Regions from separate parts of the Homo sapiens genome. Here all the other regions are linked to region 2. Evidence: fine-mapped expression QTL. A gene starts in region 2. Each other region holds a variant in brackets. All regions are shown on one strand. Distances are between the middles of the regions. Region 1 overlaps SCLT1 (sodium channel and clathrin linker 1). Region 2 holds the start of C4orf33 (chromosome 4 open reading frame 33). Region 3 has its middle 47 kb from the start of C4orf33.

Region 1 (10,746 bases), 89 kb after region 2:
TCAAAAAGTCTCAATAAGCTAGGTATTGAAGGAACATACTTCAAAATAGTAAGAGTCATCTATGAAAAACTCACAGCCAGCATCATATGGAATGTGCAAAACCTGGAAACATTCTTCCTGAAAACTGGCACAAGACAAGGATGCCCTTTCTCGCCACTCCTATTTGACATAGTATTGGAAGTCCTGGCCAGGGCAGTCAGGCAAGAGGAAGAAATGTAATCCAAATAGGAAGAGAGGAAGTCAAACTATCCGTATTTGCAGATGGCAGGATTCTATATCTATAAAACTTCATAGTCTTGGCATAAAAGCTTCTTAAACTGACAAACAACTTCAGCAAATTCTCAGGATACAAAATCAATGTGTAAAAATTACTAGCACTCCTGTACACAAAAAAACAGTCAAGCCAAGAGCCAAATGAGTAACGCAATCCCATTCCCAGTTGTAATAAATAAATAAACACACAAACTACCTAGGAATACAGCTAACTAGGAAGGTGAAAGATCTCTCTACAAGAAGCACAAAATACTGCTCAAAGAAATCAAAGATTACACAAACAAATGAAAAAATGTTCCATGCTCATGGATAGAAAGCATCAATATTGTAAAAATGGTCATACTGCCCAGAGCAATTTATACATCTAATGCTATTCCTATTAAACTACCATTGAGATTCTTCACAGAACTAGAAAAAACTATTTTAAAATTCATGTGGAACGAAAAAAGAGTCCAGATAGCCAAGGTAATCCTAAGCAAAAATAAGAAAGCTGGAGACATCATGCTGCCTGACTTCAAACTATACTGCAGGGCTACAGTAACCAAAACAGCATGCTACTGGTACAAAAACGGGCACATAGACCATTGCAACAGAATAGAGAACCCAGAAATAAAGCCACACACCTACAACTATCTGATTCTCGACAAACCTAACTCAAGCAATGGGGAAAGGACTCCTATTCAATAAATGGTGCTGAGATAACTGGCTAGCCATGTGCAGAAGATTAACAAACATTAACTTAAGATGGATTAAAAACTTAAATGTAAAACCCCAAAGTATAAAAACCCTGGAAGACAACTTAGGCAATACCATTCTGGACATAGGAGTGGGCAAAGATTTTATTAAGAAGATACCAAAAGCAATTGCAATAAAAGCAAACATTGACAAATGGGATCTAATTAAACTAAAGAGCTCCTGCACAGCAAAAGAAACTATCAACAGAGTGCACAGACAACATACAAAGTGGGGGAACATTTTTGCAAACTGCATCTGACAAAGGTCAAATATCCAGCATCTATAAGGAACTTAAATTTACAATAAAAATCAAACCTTATTGAAAAATGGGCAAAGCACTTGAACACCTTTCAAAAGAAGACATACATGTGGCCAATAACCATATGAAAAAAAGCTCAACTTAATTAGAGAAATGCAAATCAAAACCACAATGAGATACCATCTCACGCCAGTCAGAATGGCTGTTAAAACATCAAAAAATAACAGATGCTGTTATGGTTGCAGAGAAAAGGGAATGCTTTTACACTGCTGGTAGAAACAGAAACTAGTTCAGCCACTAGTGGAAAGCAGTTTGGATTCTTTTTTTTTTTTTTTTCTTTTTGAGACAGAGTCTCACTCTGTCGCCCAGGCTGGAGTGCAGTGGCGCGATCTCAGCTCACTGCAAGCTCCGCCTCCTGGGTTCACACCATTCTCCTGCCTCAGCCTCCCAAGTAGCTGGGACTACAGGTGCCCACCACCATGCCTGGCTAATTTTTTTTTATTTATTTAGTAGAGATGGGATTTCACCATGTTAGCCAGGATGGTCTCTATCTGCCTCATGATCTGCCTGCCTTGGCCTCCCAAAGTGCTGGGATTATAGGCGTGAGCCACCGCGCCCGGCTTGGATCTCAAAGAACTCAAAACAGAAGTGCCATTTAACCCAGCAATCCCATCACTGGATATATAACGAAGTAATAGAAATCATTCTACCATAAAGACACATGCACTCACATGTTCATCGGAACAGTTATTCACAATGACAAAGACATAGATCAACCTAGATGCCCATCAACAGTGGACTGGATAAAGAAAATATGGTACATATATACAATGGAATACTATGCATCCATAAAAAAGAACAAGATCACGTCCTTTGCAGGAACATAGATGGAGCTGGAGGTGATTATCCTTAGCAAACTAACAGAGAAACAGAAAAGCAAATACTTCATGTTCTCACTTATAAGTGGGAGCTAAATGATGAGAACACATGGACATGTAGAGAGAAACTACACACACTGGGGCCTATCAATGGGTGGAGGCTGGGAGGAGGGAGAGGATCAGGAAAAAGAATAATGAGTACTAGGCTTAATACTTGGGTTGAAAATAATCTGTACAACAAACCTCAGTGACACAAGCTTACCTATATAACAAACCTGTACATGTACCCCTGAACTTAAAAGTTAAGTAAAAAATAAATTCAAAAAAATTTAAAAAGAAAATATGGAACAAAATGTGGTAGTGAAAAGAACTAAAATTCGTGTAATTTGAATCCCAGAGAGAACAGGAAAGACAGAAATAATATTTGAAGAGACAATAGCTGAAAAATTTCAAAAGTAGCAAAAGATCTGTGGATTAAAGAAACACCATGCATCACAAGCATGATAATGCAAAAACATCTACAAAATCAAAATCAAAGAAAAATTCTCACAACAGAGATTATCCTCAAAGGAATAGCAGTAAGATAACTGACTTTTCAACAGATGTGATAGAAATCGAGAGACATGGAATATCTTCAAAGTGCTGAAAAGAAAAGAAACCAAAACTGTCAACTAAGAATTGTGTGCTCAGCGAAATGTTCTTCAAGAAGGAGGGTTAAATAAGTACATTTTCAGATGAAAACTGAGAAAATTACCGTTGACAGAATTAATCCAAATCCCAAAAAAGAAGGAAAAATCATCCTAGAATAAAGTTTGGAACTATGGAAGGGGTAAATATGGGAGAAAATCTAACGAGTATAAACTTTTAAAAATAATAATAATGGCTTTAAAATGTTTGAGGAGACTTGAAATATGAGCCAGCAATACCGTACATTTAGGAAGAGTGTAAATGGAGTTGAGATAGTCTCAGGTGCTTACATTATCCATTAGAAATAGGATACTAATTTATAGTAGAGGGTGGCAATTCTCAGAGGCATGTTACGATGTCTGGGCTGAGCACTACAGTAAACTAAAAGATTCTATCACTTCCAAGCTCATGGAGCAGGAAAGTGGAATAATAAAATGTAATTAATTCCAGTTAATAAGAAAGAATAGGAACAAAAAGAGAGGTGTTTTGTTTTGTTTTTTTAAAGTCAAGACATATAGGAAATACTAAGGTAGTAGATATAAACCCAGATGCCTTAGTAATTGCATTAAATTTTGCTGTACTACATGCTATAATTTTAAGAGTGATTTACCAGAGATTAACTAAATGAACCCACAATTACATGCTTTTAACCAAGGAGATTCGTAAAATACAAGAGTACAGAATGGGTGAAAATAAAAGGATAGAAAATATGTATACCATGGAAGTGCTAACTGAAAACATGCTGGTAATATCAGACATAGTAGAATTTAATGTGAAACAGATGATTACAGATTAAAAGGCGGTTTCCATAATGATACGAAATTATATTTGCCCAAAAGATATGACAGTTCTGAATGTGTAAGCACTCAATAACAAAGACTCAGAATACAAAAATGTGATAGCACTGAATGGCAGAACAGACAAATGCACCATTATAATAGGAAATATGAGCAGGTTGCTCTCAGTAAATAAAATAGCAACCAGAAAAAAAAACAGTAAGTTAAGATGCAATATTTGAATAATGCAATTAAGAAATCTCTTAAGGGACATATATAGAATACTAATACCGAAGACCTTCAAAATATGCATTCTCTAAGTACACGTGATAGTTTTCTGAAATTGACCAACTCAAAAAAAAAGCAACTCTCAGATTATAAAAGGATTGAAATTATTCAGATTATGTTCTTTGATGACAGTGAAAATTATGCTAGAAATCAATAATAAAAAGGTAACTAGAAAATCCTCAGCTTTTTCTAAGTTAAGCAGTATGCCTCTAAATGTTACTCACAGGTCAAAGAACTCACAATGGAAGTTAGAAAATATTTTCAACTGATTAATAAAGAAAATAACATAACGTCGGCGTTGCCACTAAGGCGATTCTTAGAGGGAAAGCTGTAATCTTAAGAGTATGTATTAGAAAAGAAAGTCTAAAAATAATGATGTCTTAGAATTTGTTGAAGAGGTTAGAAAAAGAACAGCAATCTAAACCCAAAATCATATAACACCTCGGGAACAGAGCACACTCGGTGAGAGACAGCAAGCATTAGAAACGCAAGATTGGACATCTATTCCCCAAGTATGCCAGATACTGAAGCAAACAAAATTAAACTATGTATAGGTAGTCCTTCCTTTGTATGAAGTGTAAGATTAAAAAAATGACCTTGCAAGCTGAAACTGTACAAAATTATCTTAATAATCAATGGGGGACAATTACGATATTTCTGTGACCTTTAAATTTTTTTTTTTTTTTTT[TG/G]AGACAGAGTCTTGCTCTGTCGCCCAGGCTGGAGTACAGTGGCTTGATCTTGACTCACTGCAACCTCCGCCTCCTGGGTTCAAGCAATTCTTCTGCCTCAGCCTCCTGAGTAGCTGGGACTACAGGCACACGCCACCATGCCCGGCTAATTTTTGTATTTTTAGTAGAGACGGGGTTTCACCACATTGGCCAGGCTGGTCTCGAACTCCTGACCTCGTGATCCACCCACTTCGGCCTACCAAAATGCTGGGATTACAGGTGTGAGCCACCGAACCTGGCTAAAAATTTTAAGACCCTAAAAACTGTCTTACTGTCAGTTATAATTATACTGCTTGTTATAACTACATTTTTTTATTAAATGAATTTTTTTTATTATACTTTAAGTTTTAGGGTACATGTGCACAATGTGCAGGTTAGTTACATATGTATACCTGTGCCATGCTGGTGTGCTGCACCCATTAACTTGTCATTTAGCATTAGGTATATCTCCTAATGCTATCCCTCCCCCCTCCCCCCACCCCACAACAGTCCCCAGAGTGTGATGTTCCCCTTCCTGTGTCCATGTGTTCTCATTGTTCAGTTCCCATCTGTGAGTGAGAATATGCGGTGTTTGGTTTTTTGTCCTTGCGATAGTTTACTGAGAGTGATGATTTCCAATTTCATCCATGTCCCTACAAAGGACATGAACTCATCATTTTTTATGGCTGCATAGTATTCCATGGTGTATATGTGCCACATTTTCTTAATCCAGTCTATCATTGTTGGACATTTGGGTTGGTTCCAAGTCTTTGCTATTGTGAATAATGCCGCAATAAACATACGTGTGCATGTGTCTTTATAGCAGCATGATTTATAGTCCTTTGGGTATATACCCAGTAATGCAATGGCTGGGTCAAATGGTATTTCTAGTTCTAGATCCCTGAGGAATTGCCACACTGACTTCCACAATAGTTGAACTAGTTTACAGTCCCACCAACAGTGTAAAGGTGTTCCTATTTCTCCACATCCTCTCCAGCACCTGTTGTTTCCTGGCTTTTTAATGATTGCCATTCTAACTGGTGTGAGATGATATCTCATTGTGGTTTTGATTTGCATTTCTCTGATGGCCAGTGATGATGAGCATTTTTTCATGTGTCTTTTGGCTGCGTAACAAAGAAATAAGACACTTTAATTCTCAGTGTTTCTGATATTTTAAAGTACAGTGTACTAAATATTAATTTTACTATTTTTTCATTTCATTTTACAATCAATTTAAAGGATTAGGATAATTGATAAGTTATGATGCAGATAACCATATGATGAAAATGATGGAATATTATGTCATCTTTAAAATATTTGCAGAAAACTTTTTAGAATGTGAGAGAATGCATATGTCTGAATACTACGGTTAAAAAGACAGATTATAGTATTAGCAATACAGTATGTCATTGGTCTATTTTTAATGGAAAGTAAAAATTCTGCTAGAAAATATATTACAGAATTAATAATGGTTTTTTTCATAGGACTTGGGGTATCTTTTCTAAAACTTGTTATATTTCTATACTGATCATTTTCTCTATTAGGTAAACATTTCATATAGGAAAAATAAAAGTTTTTAAAAACACTGTTAGATATTTAAAAATAAAAACTGTCTTAACCAATACTTGTAAGTTTTTTAATTAGAGAATAATTTTCAAGCTCTGTCCTTTCTTCAGAGTAATTAATTTTTTTGTTTCTAAAGTGTTTACCTTCTCAGTTTTATTGTATTTGATGAATTTTGTTTTCAATAAATATGTTTTGACATCAAGATTTAAGTTTTCTTGTTTCAAAGGAGATTTGTAATATTAGTAAATCATTCACCTCTAAATGTTTTAGGTAGATGGATGTAGTTTATTTTGTTATTTTCACTTTGTAATGTATTTACTATAAATATTTTCTGCTTATGATTATATGAAATAAGAGTGTTTTCTGAAAATGTACTTTTTTTCTCTTAAGTATGTATTATTTTAAATTAAAACAATCATTCTTTTAAGTTGTACCTTCCTTGCTTTTTTTTGTAGTTAAGGCATGAAATATCTGTAATTTACCTTAATGTTAAGATTAAAGTCAATTTTAAGCCTTTCAGTATTATTGTTGATCTTATATAAGGATGTGCTGAAAAATAAAGCTTCTGATGTCTTGGTTTTATAGCCAGCGACCATTTTCTTCTCTTTGCTTGTTAACTGGAATTAGTAAGAAGTCCAGTGAGTTTGGTGAAACACGCTGAAGAAAATAGCAAATAATTCTACAGGATTTAATATATAATTTTCATTTAATTGACTAGATATACATAGATATTTTAGAATTTTTCTGAATGGCTTATTTTATCATTTAATAAGAGATAATATCTGAATTTTACTCTTTTGAAAATTTTTGAAAAATTGAAACCTCTCTAGGACAAACTGAATCATGCTTCAGTTAATTGTGATCGATTTAATGCATTGAAATTGTTATATAATCTTTTGATTCTTATAGCACAGTATTTAATGGTAATTAAACACTTCTAATTTTTTATTTGAAGTCTACTTAAAAATGATTTTGTTTAAAGAGTTATTGTTGACCCAAATGTTTAATTGACCTCGAAACAGTAATTACTGTTACGAAAATGACTTGAGGCTATCATGTTAACTATTTGTTTCAAAGGTTGCACAGTGAATTAAAAGATGCTGTTGAAAAAAAATTGGAGGCCTTTCCCCTGGGCACAGAGGTAGGAACTGACATATATGCAGATGATGAAACAGTCAGAAACCTTCAAGAACAATTGCAGCTAGCCAATCAAGTGAGTGACATGTATTTTTAAAAATTATATTCTGAATTAACATACCTTTTTAAAAATTCATGTTAATCATTATTTATGGATAACAAAATAATAAAATTGTAACATTATGATTTTTTACAGTTTATAAGAATCGTTACAGGTAGCAACACTTGTAATAAATACCCTCACTGTTAGAAACGTACTTGCCAAATACCCTCACTGGTTGTTACAAATGTGTTTAATTAAAATCATAAAGATTTTGACGTGAGTTTTTTTCTTATGAGAATATTTTTTCTTTCTTTTTTTTCTTTTTCTTTTTTTTTTTTTTAATTATACTTTAAGTTCTAGGATACATGTGCAGAACGTGCAGGTTTGTTATATAGGTATCACATGCCATGGTGGTTTGCTGCACCCATCAACCCATCATCTATGTTAGGTATTTCTCCTAATGCTATCCCTCCCCTAGCCCTCAACCCCACAACAGGCCCTGGTGTGTGATGTTCCCCTCCCTGTGTCCATGTGTTCTCATTGTTTAACTCCCACTTATGAGTGAGAACATGCAGTGTTTGGTTTTCTGTTCCTGTGTTAGTTTGCTGAGAATGATAGTTTCCAGCTTCATCCATGTCCCTGAAAAGGACATGATCTCATCCTTTTTTATGGCTGCATAGTATTCCATGGTGTATATGTGCCACATTTTCTTTATCCAGTTTATCATTGATGGACATTTGGGTTGGTTCCAAGTCTTTGCTATTGTGAATAGTACTGCAATAAACATACATGTGCATGTGTCTTTATAGGAGAATGATTTATAATCCTTTGGGTATATACCCAGTAATGGGATTGCTGGATCAAATGGTATTTCTAGTTCTAGATCCCTGAAGAATTGCCACTCTGTCTTCCACAATGGTTGAGCTAATTTACACTCCCACCAACAGTGTAAAAGTGTTCCTATTTCTCCACGTCCTCTCCAGCACCTGTTGTTTCCTGACTTTTTAATGATCACCATTCTAACTGGCATGAGATGGTATTCTATTGTCATTTTGATTTGCATTCCTCTAATGACCAGTAATAATGAGCTTTTTTTCATATGTTTGTTGCCTGCATAAATATCTTCTTTTGAGAAGTGTCTGTTCATTTCCTTTGCCCACTTCTTGATGGGTTTGTTTTTTTCTTGTAAATTTGTTTAAGTTCTTTGTAGAGAGAATATTTTAATGTCAATGAAAATTTTTAAAGGAAAAAATCCATTATTTCTCTAAATTTGTATTTTTCAGTGTTCTTTTTTCTGATATTGTTTTCAGAATATTAAGAGTACTATATTTTTCTAACATTATATTTCTTCTAGAATTATACTTTTTCTTTTTCTCTCATAGTAATTAGAATCTTTGAGCAGCTATGTTAAATATATCCTGTTTTTCAACTAATTTTTTGTGAATTTTATTCATAAGGGAATTGTATTTAAATTTACAGTGTTATATCCCAAATGTTTCATATCTTGTATGGGTTTAAATCCCCATTCTTCTACTTTCCAGGTGTGTGATCATAGAAAAAAACTCTTGTGCCTCAGTTTCCTCATTTATAAATGGGGGCTACAAATTCTAAATTACAATTTTGATTTGATAATTATCTGAAAATTCGGTTTTATTTCCTGAAAATTTGGTTTTAAAATTCTATAATTATGAAAGTGATATTTTAGGTAAGTCAGAAAGGCTATATTTAGCTTGATAAGGAACATGTATTTAACACTAATTTTTTTTAATGTATGAATGGAAAGAATTTTTAAATATGATGAAAGAAAGAAATAATGAGGAAAGCATGCTGTTTGTTCTAGACTAGGAAAGATTTATAATTGATTTCATGGGATTAAATAGAAATTAATTTAGGCTTATATGTCTAGCACATATGTACGTTAATAAATTTGCCTATTTATCATTATTATCATTATTGAACAGCAAGACTCACAAATAAGAATTAAAATTATGTACAAAAGGTGCTGTGTAGTGTATATATGTTGCTTTAGGAGCCAATAGCAATAGCACAATGCTAAGTACCTAGCTTAATATTTTCAGTTTAAAATATTTTTTCTGTTACAGTATGATTTGTAGAAATCTTTCTAGAAGTCAGTTTGGAAGAAGAGCCTTAGAAATGTTTGCATTATTTGATCCAGTAATTAGATGATGACACCACATAGATTTTATGAATTTGTTCTAAAGAACTGAATATAAAAATTTTTGAATAAATATATTCATTATAATATTTATCGTAATGAAACATTTGACATAGTTTAAAAATCTTAAATATGGAATCAGTTAAATTGTAGTTTGTCCAAATAGTAAGTTGTACCATTTTTAAAAATTATATAGTGTACATCATAATCACTTGAGGGCTTTTTGAAACATGGATTTCTGCTGTGCCTCCCCACCCCCCCACCACCCCAGTTTCTGATTCAAGAAGTCTGGGAAAGAGCTCAATAATTTACATCTCTAACAGTTCTGAGGTGTTGCTGATGATGCTGATCCTTTAAGAACCACTGCTCTAGGAGAATCTGGGTTGTGTAACTACTAGTCTAGGTGATTTTTGTCGTCAGACAGGTCTGGAGAAACAGTGGGACATTTTGAGGTATGAGGCATTTTTACGACCATTTTACTGAAAAGAAAACTTGAGTCTTAAGGAAATGAAGTGAATTATCCAGGACTATTTAGCCAGGAATTAGAGATCACACCCATATCTTCTGGCTCCATATTCTGTGTTTATCTACAAATTTTAAAACCGCTTTTAAAATTTTTAATTAGCCTACAGTTTTTGTTTTTTTTTTTAAGTTTTAGACAAAACTAATCTATGGTGTTAGGAACACGAGGAAATGGTTATTTAGGAGAAGAGTATAGTAACTGGAAGAGATCACAAGAGGGTCGTCCAGCTTCTAGGTGATGGTAATGTTCTTTCTCTTGAACTGGGTGCTGGTTACATAAGCGCACTTGCTTTATAAAAATGTACAATTTGTTCATTTTCTGAATGCATGGTATACCTCAGTGTACTCCAAGGTGCCTTATGTTTTTTGTGGGTTACATATCTATCAGTATTTATTGTATTACAAATTAAAACTGAGACTTAAAAAAAAAGTAGGAGCATAAGCATGTAGTCCATTAGCCCTTAGAGCAAGGATGGCATCACATCATATAAACTTTAGAAAACTTCACTGTACATTTGTGAGAGGATGAGAGTAAAAAGGCGAAAAATGTTAACATATTATTCTGAAGATAAATTTGACTTCTAGGACCTTTCAAAGTTTAAAAGTTTCTGTACCACACTTAGATAATACTGTATGCAAACAATAGTGACCTGAGAAAATTATAATTATAAAATCATTATAAAATGGCAAGTAAAAATA
Region 2 (10,746 bases):
TGCATGGCTGATCAGTCCAAAGACAGAATATAATTTTGGCTTTAATTGCATAAACAACTTTCGTTTCTTATTGCAATGACAAATTTGTTTTTTTTTTTAAACTTTATATCGCTTAAAGAACACTGACGTCAATCTAAGAATGCATAATATTTATAAAAATTAACCTAAAAAGTATAGTCCGTCCTGCCCAGTAGTTAACAGTCTAGTTTAAAACTAACATAAACTAGAGACAGATGATTCTCCCTCTGTAATCTTCTGAGATTTAACCCCCACAACCTTTCAATTTCTTTGTATTTGAACATGTGTTCATTAAGTAAAGACAACTTAATTGTCAATGTCCTTCACCTCTTGGGCTAGCGCTCCCCTCCTGGTCATTCTCTATTAACCTATACACTGCTCTATTTCTATTCTTACATGGCAATTACATGGCATTACATATTTGTTTATTGACTCCCTGAACCCAGCTAGAATGCCTATAAGTGATGGTTACTATTTATTTGTTGAGTGAATAATTTTTCTAGTCCCTGGATCTAACACTCTAGATTTTGTGCAGGAGAAATCTACTGTGTTCGTGGTATCATCATCTCATTTAACACTACATATCAGATCAATACAATGGCTAATAACAAAGATAATAAGCCCAGAAATTCCCTTCAATTTAGTTTATCAAGCATTTATTAAGCACTCATCTTATTTCAGGTACCATACCAGGTGCTGGGGAAATAATATATAATAAGTCTACAGGAGTTTGGGATGGTTCTCATGTAACTAATCAATGAGGTACCCGTTTCCAACATCAGTTGGTTCATTTTGCAGTCCAATTTAATTCAGTGGGATCCTTATACCAAAGTAAGTTTTAGATGAATCAAAGATTTAAACATAAAAATCAAAATCATATAAAAACAGGAAATAAAAAGAGAGTTAAATAAAATCTTATAGTAGTAAGGTAGGAGATGAGCTGGGCTTGTTTTCTGAGCACCAAGGTCCCACTGATTGAAACAGAATCTTATCAAAACAAGATGCAGCAAAGAAACTGGCCACAACCAGCTAAAACCAAGATGGCAACAAAAGTGATCTCTAGTTGCCCTCACTGCTCATTATACATTAATTATAATGCAGTAGCATGCAAAAAAAAACTCCCAACAGTGGCATGACAGTTTACAAATGCCATGGCAACTCCTAGAAGTTACCTTATATGGTTTAAAAAAGGGAGGAACTCTCAGTTCTGGGAACCCTTCCTACTTTTCTGGAAAATGCATGAATAACCCACCCCTTATTTAGCATATAACCAGGGAATTGTATGTATACAGCTGGCCAACAATTCATGGGAGCTGCTGCTCCTACTCTGTCTATGGAGCAGCCATTTTCCTGTAGTTTGTTGCTCTGATAAACTTGCTTTAGCTTGTGAATCCTTTCCTGCATGAAGCCAAGAACTCTCCTGGGCTGAGCCCCAAATCTGGGCTTTCCCTGCATTAGTAGAGAAAACCTTTTAAAATACAAACCAAAACCCAAACATTTTACTACATAAATATAGCAAAACTAACATGGATGCAGCTGGAGGCTATTATTCTAAGCAAATTCATGAAAGTACAGAAAACCAAATACCACATATTTTCACTTATAAGTGGAAATTAAACAGTAGGTACTCATGGACATAAAGATGGCAACAACAGACACTGGGGACTACTAGAGGGGGGAGGGAAGAAAGGGGCAAGGGTTGAAAAACTAACTACTGGGTACTATGCTCACTACCCAGGTGATAGGATCATTCGTACCTCAAATCTCAGCATCATGCAATATAACCATGTGACAAACCCGCACATATATACCCTGGATCTAAAATAAAAGTTGAATTTTTTTAATAATAGATAAATAATAGTAAAAAAGCAAAAACCTCCTTCCCAAGTTCCCTTTACTCCAAAAGCCTATCATTAACAAAATCAAAAGTCTGGGGAAAAGTATATGCAATTCATACTTGATACAAATAACTAATTTCTTTAATGCACAAAGAGCTCCTAGAAATCAATAAGGAAAAGACCAACACTCCAACAGAAAAGTGACCAAAAATTATGAACAGCCAGTTCACGGAGAGAAAATGCAAAATGTTCACTTATAATGACAGAAATGCAAACTAAAACCACAATAAATTACCATTTTTCACTTAGATTGGCAAGGATCAGAAAGTCTGACAACAAGCTGTGTTAATGAAGGCATTGAGAAAAAAATCATTTATTGCTAGTGAGGCATAATTGATATAGCCTCTGTGAAGAGCAATACGTCAATATCTATCAAAATAAAAATGCAACTATCCTTTGACAAAAATAAGTCTAGTTCTAGGAGTTACTATACCTGCACATATTCAAAATGACATAAGCGTTGAGGATATTTGTGGTAGCATTGTTCATAATAACAAAATGTTGGAAGCAACTTAAATACCCATCAGTAGAGGACTGGTAAAAAAAATTATGCTATACCATACAATGAAACACTGTATAACTGCTAAAATGAATGAGGCAGCTCTGAATTAACATCTATGCTAAAATATGTTGTGAAGTGAAAAAAAGCAAGGTGCATTTATTTAATAAAAAGGAAGCTTATTTGCATATATGCTTGTGAGGCATACACTATCTCAGGAAACATCCAAGAAACGAGTGGTAACAGTGGTTGCTTCCCTGAAGGGAATTATCTGCCTGCAGATATGGGAAGGAGGAAGGCTTCCTTTCAACTTCATCACTTTTTAAAAACCTATCTGCATTTTACACTATGACAGACATGCATTACTATTTTAAGGTAACTGAACAGTTTAAAATTATTTTTTGGCCGGGCGCGGTGGCTCACACCTGTAATCCCAGCACTTTGGGAGGCCAAGGCAGGCGGATCACAAGGTCAGGAGATCGAGACCATCCTGGCGAACATGGTGAAACCCCGTCTCTACTAAAAATACAAAAATTAGCTGGGCGTGGTGGCACGCGCCTGTAGTTCCAGCTACTCGGGAGGTTGAGGCAGAAGAATCGCTTGAACCCGGAGGCGGAGGTTGCAGTGAGCAGAGATCGCTCCACTGCACTCCAGCCTGGCAACAGAGCAAGACTCCGTCTCAAAAAAATATATATATTTTAAGTCTAATTTAAGGCCGGTTCTCTTAAAAAGAGTATGGTGGCTGCCTCTTCTCCCCTTTATATTATATATGCTGAACGTTTCCGAAAAGTCATAATGCATATTATCAAGATGATTACTGTCCTGCAATGCAATTTTAAGTTTGGCTGTTTAGACTTTCTTAATACAATATTTATTGTTACTCTGTATGTTTCTACTTTTAACCTCTATTCTTCAAATTGCTCTTAAAACAAGTTAAAAAAATAAATTTTCAATTGTTCTGATTGCTTTATCTTTACCTGGAAAGACCTCTAAAAGGAAACGAAGGAAGAGAAAGGAGACCGAACACTGGAGCATTAAGAACCCAGGAAAAGAAAAAATGTCCGCAAAGTTTAAAAGAAATAAGTTATGGTAAAGGTGTTTTCTCAACCAAATGATCTGCAAGGAAAATTTCCAAATTCCTCTGCTCAACAAAAATTTCTTTAGTTTTTCTACAATAATGATTTCTTTTCAGTTTCCATACCTCCCCGAGGCCCCGCCCATTTATCAGGGAAACGGAGAAATGAGGAAGTCAGCCTGAAAGGGGGAGTACGCTCACTTAGCAGGAGACAGCTGAAAAGTAAAATACTTTTCAGTATTTTCCAGAGATCAAGCGAAAAACAAGACCTGGCGACGACGAAAGGAATGTCAGAGAGAAGAGGGAACAACTAGAGAACACAGACCACGAAGCTTTTCTCAAACACTGGCTTCTTCTTTTCAGCCGAGGTCACAGGAGAGGGCTCGGCTTTAGGCTCCACCCAGCTGCCTACACGTTCTGGGGGAGGGGCTTAGAACACTGAAGCTAAGACGCTTGATTTTTCTAGGAAAGAAAGATGTTGAAGGGCCACACATGAACAACTGAAGACTTCTAATCGTTCCACTAAAGTATGAGTGGTTTCCTAGAAGAAGGAAGGGTGATTCAGAAATATAAATACTGTGCAATAATTTGAAAATCAACTGTAAATCATTAAGATTACAATATAACATGTACAGAAATATTTCATTTAATACAACTAAAGGCTAACTGGCCATATAAGCAAAAACTATAAATTATATTATACCAGCTATAAACTATATTATACTATATTCCTGGGGAGGCATGTTCATAGCAGTTAACAATTGTGAAATTAGAACCATACTGCCTGGGTTCAAATCTCAACTCAGGCACTTGCCAGCTGTGTGATCTGTTCTGATCCTTGCTTAAACTTCTAACTTTGTATTCTTCCTGGTACTTTGCACATAGTACTGGGTGCTCAATGTCAATTGATCAACCAAATGAATGTTAGTGAAATGTCACTAATTTTCAATCTATACAACTTTAGGGGTTTTCTTTATTGCAGAAAAGTCATATAAAAACATTAAATGGTGGCTTGACAAGAGTTACACACAAACTACATACATTTCTGCTTGTCATTCCTTGTATTCAATTTATACTAATAGATACTTTTCATGAACATCCACTGAATTCTTTCATTCCTTCCATCAGATATTTAATCAACTCTGTGTTCCAGGTATTATGATGGAGCCTGGAGACAAACTACAAAACATGACAGATAATGCAGGAAGGAGCATGAAGTAAGTACTAAGGTGGCACCTACCTTGGGAGAAGTGGATAAAGAACTCAGGAGATGTGAAAAGGAGGAACATGAGAGGGGATCCTTTAAGGATAAGTGAAATCATCACAATTTTGTTTCCTAATGATGAAACTTATGTTGAAAATACTCCATTAAAATTCAACTACTAAAATCTTGTAACCACAAACACAAACGCAAAAACAAAAAACTATCATGATCATAATTATGATCATGTAAGCTAAAAAATTCGAGTGCAGACATAAAAGTTTTCACCTGAGATATTCACTTTATGTAAATACCACTCATCAGTTATAGCCAGAAGGTATTTGCTTCCATCCAGTTTGGGTGTAAGCGTAGAGTTAAGTCTATAATTATTTATTTGATGCCAAGTAGAAATACGACAATATACAAGGTTCAAATGTGGGAGAAGTTACAAGCAAGTCCTTGGAGAGTCAGTGAGATGTTTATGAAGAAAGAGTCATATACTGAACTTCAAAAACGAGTTGGACCTTGCACACTCAATTTTCCCTTAGCTATAACGTTTATACAAAAAGTTTTTGTGTAAACGTTATAGCTACTAAAAATCAGAACAAGTTCAATTATCACCAACTCAAAGCTGGATTAGACCTTTTCAATGATTATTAAGCTACACATCCATATTTAACAGCTAGTCTTTAGAGGAAGGGACCATCTCATTCTATTAACAGTGAGTATTGAGTAAGGCCTTCAGATGCCTAACTGCATATATTTGAATACATTTTTAAAATTTCTTAACACATATCGCTAAGGTTACTTTGTTTATATGACATTATGAGTACGGGACAACAAAACTCTTAAGCCGTTAAACAGAAAGCCAAATCAAGCTGCATCTATGACATGCCTGTTTAGTGAAACTTTACTTCAGTCCATAAAAATACAATTTATTAAAAGCACAAAACTAGTGGCTAGCTTCAAGTTAACATTTTTGTTGCTAGTGGTGAGATTTCCTCTAATGTTAAATGATTTTTTTTAAAAAAATACGTTTTAAGTCCAGACAAAATTAATTTTCAAAAATGAAAATTGTAATCTATCCACAAATGTAAGTTTTACCGTTTTGTTTTTTGCAAAAAAAAGTACCTTTTATCTTTCCTTATATTTGAGGAAACAAGCTTATCTTTGAAGAAGTAGCTGCTGAATTTGCAAGATCTTTTGAGTACTTCTAACTACACGCTTTATTACTACACAGTTAAATATTTAAACAACAGTTGTCTCCTTTGTCTAAAGACCCACAAAGACCGAGAAGGTACTTACCTTCTTGAGATGACCAAATCCAAACCTAGAACTCCTCCAGAGGTACAGCCTTGGTGGGAGATTCTGAAGACGCCAGTCTGGCTTCTATCCCTAGCCGCAGGAACCTGCATCTTTTACTTAGTCCAGAAAGGCTTAGTATATTAGTAACCCAAAGATAGTGAGGGCATTTAAACTGTGTATTTCATTCTCTACTCACGTTTGCATTTTGGTTTTTTGTTTGTTTGTTTGTTTGTTTTAAAGAGGTTGGGCCTCACTACCTGGAGACACTGTCCCACCAGTTTGGCCGCCGCGCCAAGCCGGTGGCTCAGCCCGCTGTCATCCAGGTTCTCACGACTCCTCCCATTGCTTGACAGCCAGCCAATAGCGTGCTAGGACTCTAGGACGCGCGATGGCGTAAGCTCCAACGCCCGCGTGATGACGCAAGAGGCGCCACCGTCTCCAAGGAGTGGTCCGGGGCACCGGTTTCAAAGTCGCAGGGCGGGCCGAGTGGACTTCCGCTGCTGGCCTGGGGCTTCCCAGCCGTCTTGGCGTTGTCCTCTCCAACCCCCGCCGCTCCGCGTAGAACGCCGCTCTCAGGCTGCCGTCAAGCTCCCGCGGCACTCTCCTAGGTGGCCCGACGAGACCCAGAGTGACCCGCGGGACGCCTGTATCGACCGCGTCCTCTTCCCACCAGCGTGGGATTCGGTTGAACGTGGAGTCCCCAGCAATCTTCAGTCTCTCACCAGGGCCAGGGACTCGTCTGGGGCGCGGGGGAAAGAAGCGTGGCGGGGCTGTAGATGCCGCGTGAGTAGGATGCAGATTGCACCGCTGGAGCGCTTGACAACCAACCGAGCGTTGGCTTAGTTTTGTTTTCCCGCACAGCAAGCTCTCTGTCTTTCAGAGGAAGGTAAAGGTGGTGAAAGCTCTAAACTAAAATTGTATCGAAATGGCTGCAGAAATCGACTTTCTGAGAGAGCAAAGTAAGCTCCATGTTTTTTTGAGACTTCATATACAATGTTTAATATCGTCGTCGTTGACCGACAAATCTTTTTTGAATGCTGGTTGGGTACATTTAAATTGGTAAAGAGTTAAAGAAGTTAGTTGCAGGAAAAAAAAAACCTTGATGTTATACGTGAGGATGTGTGTATATTTAAGCAGAACCGTGTGGTAGTACTTGTAGCTTACACAGAATTCTACTAGACGCTAAACATGTTTGTTATGCTCCTCTCGTGCTCTGAAGATTAGAAGGCTAATGGCCAGCAGGAGTTTCCAAGTGTGCATTTAAAATCTAGGGGCACAGCTCTCTGGCCATTTATTAAAAAGATGTTTATTGAACTCCTGTTTCTATTATGTACCAGACACTATGGAAGAACAGCTGCTGCAAAGATAAACAGGACAGTTTTTACCTCCAAGAATTTAATTTGGGGAGGGAAATGTATTCCAAAATATATTGAAGTGACAGCAACTGCTGGCTCTTTTGCCACAGTCTCATAGGGTTGTTGGAAAGATTAAATGAATATTAAAATATGTAAAGGATTTAGAATAGTATCTGATACATTGTGTTAAACAAATATTAACTATTACACGATTATTATTAAAATATGTTCAAGGAAGGTGCTATTGGGCTGAAACGTGCAGTACAAATATGAATTTACTATATGAAAAACTCTAGGCATCCCAAATAGAACAATATTTGTGACACTGAGGGGATTAGGAATATGCTTTGTTAAAGACTTGCAATACGGCTGGTTTGAGTGTAATATTGATGTAAATTGAATTGGAATATTTATATAGGGAAATGGCAAGTGCAGTTGAAGGCGTAGAAAGGGGCTGGATGGTGAAGGGCCCTGTCTTCTCTGTGCTAAGGAGTATGGACCATTGCATGGGTTATAGGAATTCAGTTGAGAGTGGCATGATCAAATTGTAGTTTAGAAGGCCCGGTCTGATTTTTACGGGGAATATGCATTATAGCAGAGTGCAGTTAGTTGTCTACTGTCATCATTCAGGTAAGAAGTAAACTAAGTTGGGCACAGGGAGACTGGAGATCAGGGGATTTGAGAGAAAGAGGTAGAGAGCAACTTAGTTTTTGCTTGAGCAACGGGGAAGTTAGGAAAAAGGTAGTAAGTTCCGTTTTGGTAGCATTATAGACCAGTGGTTAAGAACTCAGTCAGCCTCTGGATTTAGTCTGTCTGGGCTCACAGCCTACCTCTTTCCAGGTCTGTGACCTCGAGCAAGTTTCCTAGCTTTTCTGCACCTCAGTTTTCTCATTTATATAATGAGTATAAGAACACAAGAATCCTCTTGAAGTTGTGAGACTTAAATGAGATGATGAAAAAGCATTGAGCATAGTGTCTGGCACATATTAAGTGCATGGTATATGTTATCTAAAATAATTAATGACACTATAATGACACAATAACATTAGCATTATTTCTTAGGTTTGCAGTGGGAATATCCCCACCCCATAAGAACAGCTAACTGGCCACCGTAAGAGTAGTGTGGGACAGGAATTGGTTGATGAGGAGTTTGGCTAGAGTCAGGATAGTACTTGAGGTGGTCAGAAACTATTAATTTTATAAGAATGATCCAGCCAGAATTCTTAGATAAAACTGAGATCCAAATACCAGGGGAAAACAAATAAGACAACTGAAGCATAGTAACATTTTTTTAAAAATGAGTGGTATTTAATAGTTCCATGGAAGACAAGTGGAGTGCAAGAAGGAAATCTCAAGCAGAAGGAGCAGAAGAAGGAATGGTTCAAAGGCTTAAAATAACTGATTTTATTCAGGAAATCGGAGCATAGAATGGTAGCGTTTGCATGAAGAGATAAGAATGAGAGTTGAGTGTCTGTGTCGCTCTCCTTTTTTCTTTAACCGGATTTTGCATGCCATTTGAAGGTGGTGGGTTATTCCATTAAGTGACCCACCTAAATACCAGCCCAGATAAAGATAGATCACTTGCCTTCTTTCCACCTGCCTCTGACTTTTTCTACACTGATTTCTGTTGATCTTGATTGTCTCTTTGTTCCGTTTGGATTTGGGAGCCCAGGTCAAGACCATTTGTTTTGGTACTTCTCAACTCATGTTTTGGTACTTCTCAACTCATGTTTGGTACTTCTCAACTCTCATGTCCCCACATGACATTTCCTCTGATAATTACTATTTCAGCTTTACATATCATAACGACAGGCAGCTCCACACTCAACCAGGCTACTAGTAGAGTAAGCTTGTAGCATATTTGCTGTGCACCGTTCTTCCACCTTTGTCTGGGAAAGATCAGTTAGTTTTTAGGAACCTGTTCAAAGAGGTACTTGCATTATCAATCTAAGGAACTAAGAATTCATTCATTAGTGGGGTGTGAGACTCACTGGCAGAGTGGTGATGGACTTATTTTTTCTTTTCATTCTCTTAATAGTGTTGGAGCCAAACATTTTTAATTTTGATGAAATTTAATTCATCAATTTGTTCTTTTATGAATTGTGTTTTTGGTGTCATAAAAGAAATCATTGCCTAACCCAAGGCTGCAAAGATTTCTTCTATATTTTCTTCTAGGAGTTTTATAGTTTTAGGTTTTACATTTAGATCTATGGTTCATACAGTTAAATTTTATACAAGGGATGAGGTAAGGATCCAGGCCACTTTCTTGCATTGGATGCCCAAATGGAAAAACTACCCTTTCTCCATTGAATTACCTTTGCTCCTTTGCAGTTGTTTATATATGTATGGATCTATTAATGAACTCTATTCTTTTCCACTGATTTATTTGTCTGTCTGGACACCAGTACCCCACTGTCTTAATTATTGCAGCTTTATAGTAAGTTTTAAAATAAAATTGGTTCTTCTGTACATCATTGATGTATCTTTTTAAATTTTCTCAGCTATACTTTGTAGTTTTTAATATTTAGGTTTTGCACATCTTTTGTTAGATTTATGCCTATGTATTGAAATTTTTGATACTACTGTAAATGGTATTATTCTTTTACTTTCAGTTTCTGATTTTTCGTTGCTAGTATGTAGAAATAACATTTCTTTTTTATTATTATACTTTAAGTTCTGGGGTACATGTGCAGAACGTGCAGTTTTGTTACATAGGTATACTCATGCCATGGTGGTTTGCTGCACCCATCAACCCGTCACCTGCATTAGGTATTTCTCCTAATGCTATCCCTCCCTTAGTCCCCCACTCCCCAACAGGCCCCGGTGTGTGGTGTTCCCCTCCCTGTGTCCACGTGTTCTCCTTGTTCAGCTCCCACTTATGAGTGAGAATATGCGGTGTTTGGTGTTCTGTTCTTGTGATAGTTTGCTGAGAATGATGGTTTCCAGCTTCATCCATGTCCCAGCAAAGGACATGAACTTATATTTTTCTATGGCTGCATAATAGTCCATGGTGTATATGTGCCACATTTCCTTTATCCAGTCTATCATTGATGGACATTTGGGTTTGTTCCAAGTCTTTGCTGTTGTGAATAGTGCCGCATTAAACATACATGTGCATGTGTCTTTATGGTAGAATGATTTCTGATTATTTGGGTATATACCCAGTAATGGGATTGCTGGGTCAAATGGTATTTCTGGTTCTAGATCCTTGAGGAATCGCCACACTGTCTTCCACAATGGTTGAACTAATTTACACTCCCACCAACGGTGTAAAAGCAAAAGCATTCCTATTTCTCCACATCCTCTCCAGCATCTGTTGTTTCCTGACTTTTTGATGATTGCCATTCTAACTGGTGTGAGATGGTATCTCATTGTGGTTTTGATTTGCATTTCTC
Region 3 (10,746 bases), 48 kb before region 2:
ATACCACAAAGCATTTTATTATTTTTATTTTAGATTCAGGGAGAACATGTGCTTATTTGTAACACAGGTATACTGCATGATGTTGCAGTATGGGCACTTAATAATCCCGTTGCCCAAGTAATGTACATGATACCTGATAAGTAGTTTTTCAATGCTTGTCCCCCACTTCCTTCTTCCTCCCTTTTGGAAATCTCAATGTTTATTGTTCTCATCTTTGTTTCCACATGCACCCAATGGTTAGCTCCCACTTGTAAGTTAGAACATGTGGTATTTGGTTTTTTTTATCTATTTTAATTTTCTCAGGATACTGGCCTTGTGCTGCATCCATGTTGCTGCAACGGACATTACTTCATTCTTTTTTATAGCTGTATACTATTGCATGGTGCATAATTACCTCATTTCCTTATCCAATCCAAGATTCATGAGCACCTGCTTTGATTCCATGTCTTTGCTGTTGTGAATAGTGCTGCAATAAACCTATGCTTATAGGTGTCTTTTTGGTAGAATAATTTATTTTCCTTTGGGTATATACCCAGTAATGGGGTTGCTGACTCAAATGGTATAAATCTATTATTAGTTCTTTGAGACATCTCCAAACTGCTTTCCACAGGGGCTGAGCTAATTTGCATTCCCACAAACAGTATACAAGGGTTCTCCTTTCTCCATGACTTTGACAACATCTGTCATTTTTTGACTTTCCAGTAATAGCGATTCTGATTGGTGTGAGATGGTATCACGTTGCGGTTTTGATTTACATCTCTCTGATGATTAGGTATGATGAACAATTTTTTGTATGTTTGTTGGCTGCTTTTATGTCTTCCTTTGAGAAGTGCCTATTCATATCCTTTGTCTGCCTTTTTCTTATTAAATTACTTATAGATTCTATACATTAGTCTTTTGTTCTATGCAGTTTGCAAATATTTTACTCCATACTATAGGGACAGGTATATTTAAGGGAGCTAACTGACTGGATCCTTCACAGGCAGAGTTCCAATATATTATGAATCTCTGAAACAGTCACCTAATTTTCCCTAAATTAGTCAGTGAAGTCCATAAATTTTAAAAACACAAAATATCTACATTTAAAATCTTTCTTCAAAAGCTATAGATAACTTGTTAGAACTAAGCATCACAATACTGCTGTACAATTTTTAAAGGGGCACAGTTTTAACTTATAGTTCCTAGAACTTCAAAGAACACTGTCAATTTAAATTTAGTGCTTTGCAAATACCACTCAATACCTGAAATAAAACAATTATCTGTATTGACTATGTGGACTAACATTTTCACATGAATTACTAATTAATATTGTTTCATGGATAATTTTCTTACATGCTTATCAAATATAGACTGTTCATTCCAAAAATCTCAATTCCGGTTCACACAATCTTTGGCCCAGCTTTCTGAGTCATTAAATTTTTCAGATACTCATGTTGAATAAGCTGAGGTATTTGGAAACTCCGAGAAAAATAATAGCTACTGTAAGAAAACATGGCCGCATATCATAATGTGTGTTCTTCATTTTTCTCACTGTTGGCACTCAAAATACAAAATCTCTAACCTTCATACTTCTAGAGTTCATTAAAAGGTTGCCCTGGTGCCCCCTGATGGTGCTGGGGGATCATTGAAAATTGGAGCATTCACTTCCATTAGTAAGCCTCAAGCCCCAGGTTTAAATGTGAGAGTTACAGGCCTGTGTATCACTGGTGTACTGTTCCATGTTGTGGTAGTTTTATATTCCAACTACCAAAATGAGACAGGAGATCAAATACCATGATATAAGTGAAGCAATGTGTTTCTTGTTCCCTTGGTCTTGATGTAATTAAGCTCAAATAACATTTTTACCAATATCCTCAAGGCAACGAATACTTCATTGCATTTTTTAAAATTCTATTAGTTGCATTAAAATGTTTTTACCCATAGCAAAATTTCTACAAAAAAAAATTTTGAAGAATTGCTTGTTGTGACTTAATACAGGTACATTACCTATGCAGTACATACAAGGTTTACCAACATAAACATGTTTTTATTCATTCCACAAACAAGTTTTGAGAATAGACTATATGCAGCTGCTCACTAGGTTCTATAAAGGAGAGTCAAAGAGCTAAAGATGTAATCCCTGCCCTTAAAAAAGTTATAATCTTTATTATTAGGGGAAAAAAACAAAATGCACATCTACAAACTAATGAACAGTTCAAAAAAGCATTAAGAACCTGATTGGAATACACAGAAAAGTAATAAAAACATAGAGATAAATATGAGTTGTAGTAGTCAGAAAAGCCTCCTGGTTTGGGAGGCCAAGGTGGGCGGATCACGAGGTCAGGAGATCGAGACCATCCTGGCTAACACGGTGAAACCCCGTCTCTACTAAAAACATAAAAGATTAGGCCGGTGTGGTGGCAGGCGCCTGTACTCCCAGCTACTCCCGAGAGGCGGAGGCAGGAGAATGGCGTGAACCCGGGAGGCGGAGCTTGCAGTGAGCCGAGATCGCGCCACTGCACTACTCCTGCCTGGGTGACAGAGTGAGACTCCGTCTTAAAAAAAAAAAAGAAAAGAAAAGAAAAGAAAAAAAGCCTCCTGGAACTTGAGCTGCACAAGAAAGGAAAATACATATATTTAATGTAACTATCTTATGGATGCTTATTTTGCCTATTTTAATTTCAATTTTTTTGAAAGCTGAAAGTAATCGCCTCAGTTAGCATTTATTGCTCACATTCTATGCTAGCTGCTGACTTTTATGTACCCTCCCAAAATGTAATAGAATGTTGTTCTGACCTAGGTATATATTGAATGCTTAGCAAGTGCTAATCAATTAATAAACATCATGACTTTTTTGTTCTAGATGATGAAGTTACAAAAACAAGACCTGTCCCTTGGACTTAGATGACTCACAATCTAATGGAAAAACACACAACTGTGAGCAACATGTGAGAAAACAGCATGAAAAGTGCCTTAATAGAAGTAGGGGCACACAGAGCACGGGGCCTCTAGTTCTGATGGTGGGAGCTGCAAGAGCGAGAGTGTGGCTGACTGCCAGGGTTACTACCTGAGACTGTCACTATAGCAGTTACTACTGTTACTGCTTGGGACCGTCATTACAAGACTGAAGGAAGGGACGAACGCAGAAATGAAAACTTAATACAAAAGAAACTGTTTTAAAGAAGACATGAAAACTTAAGACAAAAGTAACTATTTTAAGGAAAGGCTAGCATGGGGAAGAAGAGAGAAGGAGAGAAGAAAGACTCCCTGCTTCTAATGAGCAAAGGCAGCCGCCTAAGCATCTACAGCCCTTATTGGGTAACAAGAGCAGGGAGGAGGAGGTAACGATTGGTCAGCTGCTTAATTGATCACAGGTTCATATTGTTACTAACAGGCTTCAATTACGCCTAATCGTAGGAACCACTTGCGCCTGGGTTGTGACTGACCTCAGCAGTCTTTCTGGGCGGCAGACGCAGTTTGTCAGTTTGCCAACATTCTGCATTTATGAGAACAGTTTGTTGCTTACTCATGTAGCCTCCAGTGGTATACTGAGTTGATCACGACCCTCACTCTTTCCGCCTCCAACACGGGAGTGCCAGCAAAGACCTCACAGGATGTGCAGGAACAGAACAGGAAAGGAAACAGTTATGTTACAAATGGAGGAAATAGCATGAACAAAAGCCCAGAACCATGAGATAGCTGAGGGGAGATAGGAGATAAACGGAGCATAAGGGACATGGTGGATGGGGCGTGATGAAAGAAGTGATGTTGGCAGAAGGGGTGCAGATCACTGAGCTGACATTCGAGTTTATGCTGAAGCCATGTGGACCACTGAAGGTTGTAAGCAGGGAATTTACTGACAAGTTTTATGTTTTAGAAAAATCACTATGGAAGATGTATAGAAAAACCAAAACACTCTGAGAAATCTGAAGTCTTAATCCAAATTTATTTTATTTATTAATTATTTGTTTCTATCCCGATTTCTCCTAACTACACTGGTAAGGTTTTATTTTCAAAGTTATAGTCTTTATTTCCAATGGTTCTTATGCAATGTTTATAAGACAAAAGGATCTTAAAGAATACAATTGAACTCAATTCAATAGAACTCTATTTTCTCGCTACAACATAATACTTCTTGAATTTCCTAGTGCAGAATACATTCAAGTCTTTTAAATTATTCATTCCCCATTATGTAGAGAAAATTAACCAAACTGACTCTGACTAAAGAAAAGAAAACAAAATTTAAAGCCAAGAATAAATTATGATAAAACATTGGTCTAAACAGCCATTTAGAAAACTATCCCATCGTAAAAGCAGAAGAAATTTGTGTGCAAAAAAGTTTAAAACTCCATATAGTCAGTGGTATGATTGTTCATTTGCTCCTAAACATTCCCAAATTGTGCCTAACTCTGAGCTACTTTTGCTTAGAAATAGAATTAGAATGATTTTTAAAATGTATTCTATTTATTTTTTTCCTCTTTTTATAAATAGATTATGTTCTTTCTAACATCCCAACATGGTCAAAGGCATTCTTCTAGCAACTCGCAAATTTCAGTAAAACTGTCACCTTCAGTAAAAGTTCAAAATGTCAAAATAATTTTAAATTTAGTATGAAATTTCACTTGTTTTGCTATGTAGTTTGGAAATATCAAATGTTAACCAGAAAATGTATGAAACACAATAAAAATGAGTATGTGTGGACAAATAAGACATTTTTAAAATTCTGGTAATCAAATGTTCTCTGGTATGAAAC[G/T]TCTTAAGCAAGATTCATATATATATGAATATATATGTATATATATACACACACACACACATACACACAAAAAAAAAACATTTGTAGACACCCTAATGCTCAACTGCTGGTGTATTCTAAAATAGCTTGATGCTTACCAAATTCTCAACTGCTTAGTCAGCTTTCTGTTAAATTTATGAAATTCCCACTTTATGCCAGCACTACATAAAACAGAATTTGACCCAATGAGTTGATTTTTGTTTTTTGTTTTTTAAATTAGGTTTCCACAGAGGAATATCCTACAACCTATAGTAACAAAGAGGTTTTATTTGGCCAAAAACGGTATGATTCCTGAAAGGCAAAATCAAATTTCTCTAAACTGAAAGAAATACACTTCTAAAAGTCAATAAAGGAGCAGATAACACTCTTTTAATGGACAGGTTTTGTTCAGCTATATAACCTTTTTCTGACAGATTTCATTTTTAAAACTCTCTACAGGAAAATTACTAATGATTTTCAAATCAGAATAATAGGAAACCAAGCAACATTAAAGTTAGGGCTGAGTTGTATCAGAATTAGAGAATTTTATTTCAAGATGTTCCCCTTTCATCTATAAGGGCAAAGAATTACAAGAGTTGTGCGATTATATTAGGTCAATAGAATCAATGTAAATACACAGTTTGGGTAAGTAGGCTAAAAACTCCTTGCTGTATCATTTCTGTAGGCTAAAAACTCCTTGCTGTATCATTTCTTCAACTGTAGGATTTTACATTTTGCCCACCTTTTTTCAAATAGTTGCCTCTATTCGCTACCTTGCCTACATATACAGGGCCCTAAAAGATAAGCAATAATTCATGTAGGTTTCTGTGGCCATTTTTTTTATCCTTCTGACAAATCCATTTGAAATTATATATTTTTATATCTAATACTACCACTGAGTTATGATATTTAAAGATTTTAATTGTAGATAGGCAGAAAATATCGTAAAATCAAACTGGCATCTTCTCTTAGTAGGACAATCAGCTTATATTTTATAAAGGATATGAAGGGTCAGCAAAATAAAATTATTAACTTTAATTAGGTTCAAACATGGATGATGTAGGTATGTTAAAATCACTAGGATATTTACTTTGAATCCAGAAAAATTAGCATATAGAGAGAACTATTGATACAAGTTACTTTTTATAATAAAAAGTGAGGTTTATAATCAAAATTTATTAATTTGAAATGATATCTATATAAAAGTATATATATAATTTTTAGGTAATCTAATAATCCTATATAGTATCACACATATATCAAATTTAAGTAAGATTTAATGAACAGCATTTTTACCCAGTAAGATGTAAAATAATATTTAAGTTTTAACTACATCTTACTTGTAAGCAAGATATAGAACAAAGTACGTAAATGAGACTTAAAATTATATAAAGTCTTTACTCCAGAGCCAAAAAAATTATATAGTCTCCTATGTGTAATTTTAGCAATTAAAATGGTGAACTAGATACAAACAATATCATAGGAAAAATGTAAAAATCTGAATTCGGAAAAGAAAAAGTTACAAGGTCTTCATTGGGTTATACAAAATTATAATACTGTAAAGCTTGTCCCACTATAGAACAAGGTGATCTCTGAAATTACAAGCCAGTGAATTCAGAACTATAAAAAGGAAATATTACTTCATAACCTTTAGTTAACCTATAGCTACACTTCCACAGAAGGTCATAAAATCACATTCTGTGGTTGGATTTAAAAGCTGGATAATTTTATAGCCACTCATAATATCAGGGCTCAAGATCATTGCCTTTAGTGGCTGGAATAGAATTCTTTGATCATCCATATGAATATACTGCTAGGTAAGGAGGTAGATAGTAAAACATGCAGCCTTACGGGTTAAATATTGGTTTCTTGGAGTCAAATGACAATGTTTACCACCTTTGTCTTCTTTTAAGCATGCTTAAGATTAGTGAAGGTGAATAGAAGCCACAGAAAGCTGCCTTTGTAAGTCAAAACGTATATTTCCCTTGTGGAATCTTCCCAACAATTGATAGAACCATGTGTACAGTAAGCCTACATCTGATAAAACACTGGCATCAAATGGAAGCTAGAATTTCCATTTCCAGGTTCTTTCAACCTGGGTGACCTTCCATTTCCAAGCTGAAACTTCACTTTCCCAGCATCTAAGGTGCTTCTCTTAGATGGTACCTTAGTTTGTAAGTATACTTCCTGTATCTATCATCTGCTTAAAAAGTACCACTTACAATGTCCTCTCTACGCAAGCTTTTAAATTATTTTAAAATGTACTATCCTTTCATCTTTAAATATTTTTTAAATTGTCGTTTCCTGCCTCTGTGCCTTTGTTCATTCTGCCTCTATCACTGTAATGCTATTCTCTGTCCCTCCTACTTCAAGGATCCAGTTTCTTCCTGAAGTGATCCCTGATGTTCTCAGATAAAAGTGATATTCCAAACCTCCCTCCCCACCTACCATGTACATCCCAAATATTATATCTGTGATTTTGATATTTATCCATCTCTACCTTATTCTAAGAGTATGTGTAAATTCATTTGGCTTACCTCTTGCTTAGCTCTCTTCTAGAATGTAAAAATTTTATAAATAGGAGCTGTACCCAAGTCATTTCTTGTGTGTTTCACAGCACCTAGTCCACTGTCTTCAACAAGGGCAATACTGTGTGCTTCCTTGGCAATAATGCATGCTAAGAATTACTTTGTGGCATACCTGTTATGGATGTTTTTATATAATTCTTACCTTTCCTCTTCCAGCTGGCAATTGTTTTCTTTCTTGGTTACTTTTGAAATTTCCAGTAATCAAAATAATAAAAAGAAAATTAACCTCTACAAAAATACAGTTCTTAGATCCAGTATTCACGCAAAAAGAATAATGCAGTAAAAATAGATAAATAAAAGCATGCTGAGGTTGTCAGTATTTTAAACACAGTTATGTGGTGTTTCTTGGTAGAGTTGAATGAAGCACCAAAAATATCATTTTGTTAACCTGCTTCTTCCATCTAGTGGCAAAAAGCAGGAAGAAACAATGTCCTAGAAAAACACCACGATCAAATGGTTCTAAATGCCATTTCAGGAAATACTGATGATAAGAGTTCAACATTCAAGGTTTAAATGATAAGTATATGATAAGTATTTTAAAATAATTTTAGCAAATTGATAGTGCTCAGCTAGGATAACTGTCAAAGTTACTTAAAGTCATACATGTATTTGCATGCTTTCACAAAGACTTCAACTACATATGTAAAGCTATGTATCACCCCACATTAAATTGAGATGGATTTATTTTGGTATACATAATTATGGATCTGGAACAAACTGTTGGATAACTATTTAGAATGCCATTATTTCCTCAGCTATAAGCACATGGCAACCATGCTGTTATAAGTTTTAAGAGGTACAATTGAGAACCACTGCAATTGGACTTCACCATTGGAATTGCCAGTGAAAATATTTCTGCAATAATAGGCAGTGAAAAATTTTGTGACCTGAGGCATAGGGTCAGTTGGAAGGGGGAGAGAGGGAAAGTTTAAAGGAGGTACAATCAGCTGCTCTGCATTGTTAGAGCTGCTTCAAAGACATTAATGAAAAATAATATGCAATGGACAGCATAATTGTGCATTCTCTGCACTAAAAGGCCACCAGCTTATCCCTAATACATAAGGTTTGACTGCCCTTCTAACATTTTCTGTTTGCCTCACTGCAAATGTAATTAATGTTTTAGAAGTTAAATGTGGGTTATGCAGAAGTGGAAAGAATGTTCTCCAGGACAGCAACTTTTTCCCGTTCTTCTTTTCAAGTGAACAAGTTAACCATGTGTAATGGTGATAAAAATAAAAAGCCGTCAAAGTATTTAATATGTAAAGACTATAAGGGAAAATATAAGTGTCCATGAGTATCATAATTATTTTAAACTCAGTTTTTAATAAAAGAAAATAAACTTTTTGTTTATTTCCTAATTTTTAAGAAGAGAAAACCTTGTGTCTTCTGATCTCTGAAACCCTTTCCCAGATGAATAGGGACCAGCTACAAAAGTTCATTGAATATTTAATCACGGCACACCACCACACTGAAGTTCTTCCTACCGCACAGAAACTGGCAGATGAGATTCTATCCTCCAACTCAGAAATCAACCAAGTGAACAGTGCTCCTGACCCCACAGCTGGGGCCAGCATTAACAATGAGAACTGTTGGCGTTTGGATGAAGAAGAGGTGAAAGAACAAGTGAAGCTTTTTCTCTCCCAGGGGGCTTAGTATGGCTCTGGAAAGCAACTCAACTCAATATTTGCCAAGGTTCGAGAAATGCTGTGGATGAGAGATTCCAATGGAGCAAGGATACTGATGCTAATAACTGACCAGTTTATGGCTGACCCATGACTCACACTCTGGAGTCAGCAAGGAACAAGCCTGACAGGTAAAGTCAGGCAACTCTGGCATGAGCTAGGGCTCTATGGGTGTGCATAACTTTAAATCCACACTGCAAACTGGAGGAGAAATCCTGCTGGCTGCAGCTGCTGCAGAAGTGGAGCGACCTGGATGTCTGTCCCCTGGAGGATGGAAACTATGGACATGAGCTGTCCAACATCACCAATGCACTTCCCCAGAATGCCATTCACAGCCCAGACTCCTTATCCAGACCAAGATGAACGATATTCACAAGGGCCATTGAGGGCCATGAATTACACTGACAGGACAGCCACCTACAGCGAATAATCAGCAGTGATGTTTACACAGCTCCTGCCTGCCGGCAGGAAAGTGAAAGAGTACTCTTTAATTCCCCAAGCCAGCCACTGTGCCTTGAGCATGTGCCTACAGCCTGTGCTCAGGTTGATTCCCTACGTTCCCATGGTTATCCAAAAGAGGCCCTCAGACTCACAGTGACCATTATTAATACTCTGAAGCTGCAGCAACAGCGGCAACTGGAAATCTGCAAGCATCAGAAGAAAGAATTGTTGCAGAGAGGAACGACAACCATCACAAACCTGGAGGGCCAGGTGGGCCACCCCCGATCCCATTGGCTGCCTGTTTCTCACTTTGACCGAGGCCTGCTGCCTGAATGATGACGGCTATCTGGAGATGTCAGATATGAATGAAAGCAGACCCCCTGTGTACCAACATGTACCTGTGGCTGCAGGCTCCCCAGACAGTAGTAAGTCCTACCCGTCATTGGCCCTGGAAGTTGCATTGATGGACCTGGGTCGACAGAGGATAATGCCTGAATACCTCTACGCACAGGACAAGGTGTCCCATAATGAAGAGCAGCTCCTAAGCCAACTCCAAGAGCTGCAGCTTGACGATAAGCTAGTGCAAACACTGCAAACAGTGTATCTTACTGCTGGAAGGGGGCCCTTTCAGCAGTCTGGGAGAAGTCATTCACTAAAAGAGTGTTCCCATGCATACATACCTTTGCCAAGTATTTGTTCTCAGCTCTGCTGTCTCATGGTCCAGACCTGTCCTATAAATTAGCCTGACGTGCCATGAGGTTACCTGCTTTAGAAAACTCAGCTTCTGGCCAGGCACGGTGGCTCATGCCTATAATCCCAGCACTTTGGGAGGCTGAGGTGGGTGGATCATCTAAGGCCAGGAATTCAAGACCAGCCTGGCCAACATGGAGAAACCCCATCTCTACTAAAAATACAAAAAAAAAAAAAAAAAAAATTAGCCAGGTATGGTAGCAGATGCCTGTAATCCCAGTTACTCAGGAGGCTGAGACAGGAGAATCACTTGAACCCAGGAGGCAGAGGCTGCAGTGAGCTGAGATCATACCATTGCACTTCAGCCTGGGCAAAAAGAGTGAAACTCCATCTCAAAAAAAAAAAAATGAAAGAAAGAAAACTCAGCTTCTGTAGGTGACACATCCCACCCTCACCATATGGAATCACAGCAGTGTGAACCGGCCTCTGCCATGCTGACTGCTGCCAAAAGAGACACTGAGATTCTGAACAATTCTGGAAGCAATACAGAATCAAAGCACATTCATTCTTCCTTCCTCATCTTCAAACTGGCCCA

What was found.
Region 1: its variant is fine-mapped to the expression of C4orf33 in whole blood (INTERVAL, PIP above 0.99).
Region 3: its variant is fine-mapped to the expression of C4orf33 in thyroid (GTEx, PIP above 0.99). The same link has a PIP of 0.9 or more in esophagus muscle.

The regions. Positions count from the first base shown.
Region 1 is chr4:129,000,377-129,011,122 of GRCh38, reverse strand. It overlaps SCLT1 (sodium channel and clathrin linker 1), which reads left to right. Exons shown (of 21, transcript NM_144643.4): 6 at 7,247-7,382. Among named protein-coding and RNA genes, the nearest start is that of SCLT1, 88 kb to the left of the region's middle. The variant TG/G (reference allele first, on the strand shown) is at 4,585.
Region 2 is chr4:129,089,279-129,100,024 of GRCh38, reverse strand. It overlaps C4orf33 (chromosome 4 open reading frame 33), which reads right to left and starts at 3,873. Exons shown (of 6, transcript NM_001099783.2): 1 at 3,816-3,873. It overlaps SCLT1 (sodium channel and clathrin linker 1), which reads left to right and starts at 6,486. Exons shown (of 21, transcript NM_144643.4): 1 at 6,486-6,955. The coding sequence starts at 6,922. RefSeq lists an enhancer at 6,222-6,791.
Region 3 is chr4:129,137,710-129,148,455 of GRCh38, reverse strand. It overlaps the pseudogene ZSWIM5P3. Among named protein-coding and RNA genes, the nearest start is that of C4orf33, 47 kb to the right of the region's middle. The variant G/T (reference allele first, on the strand shown) is at 4,733.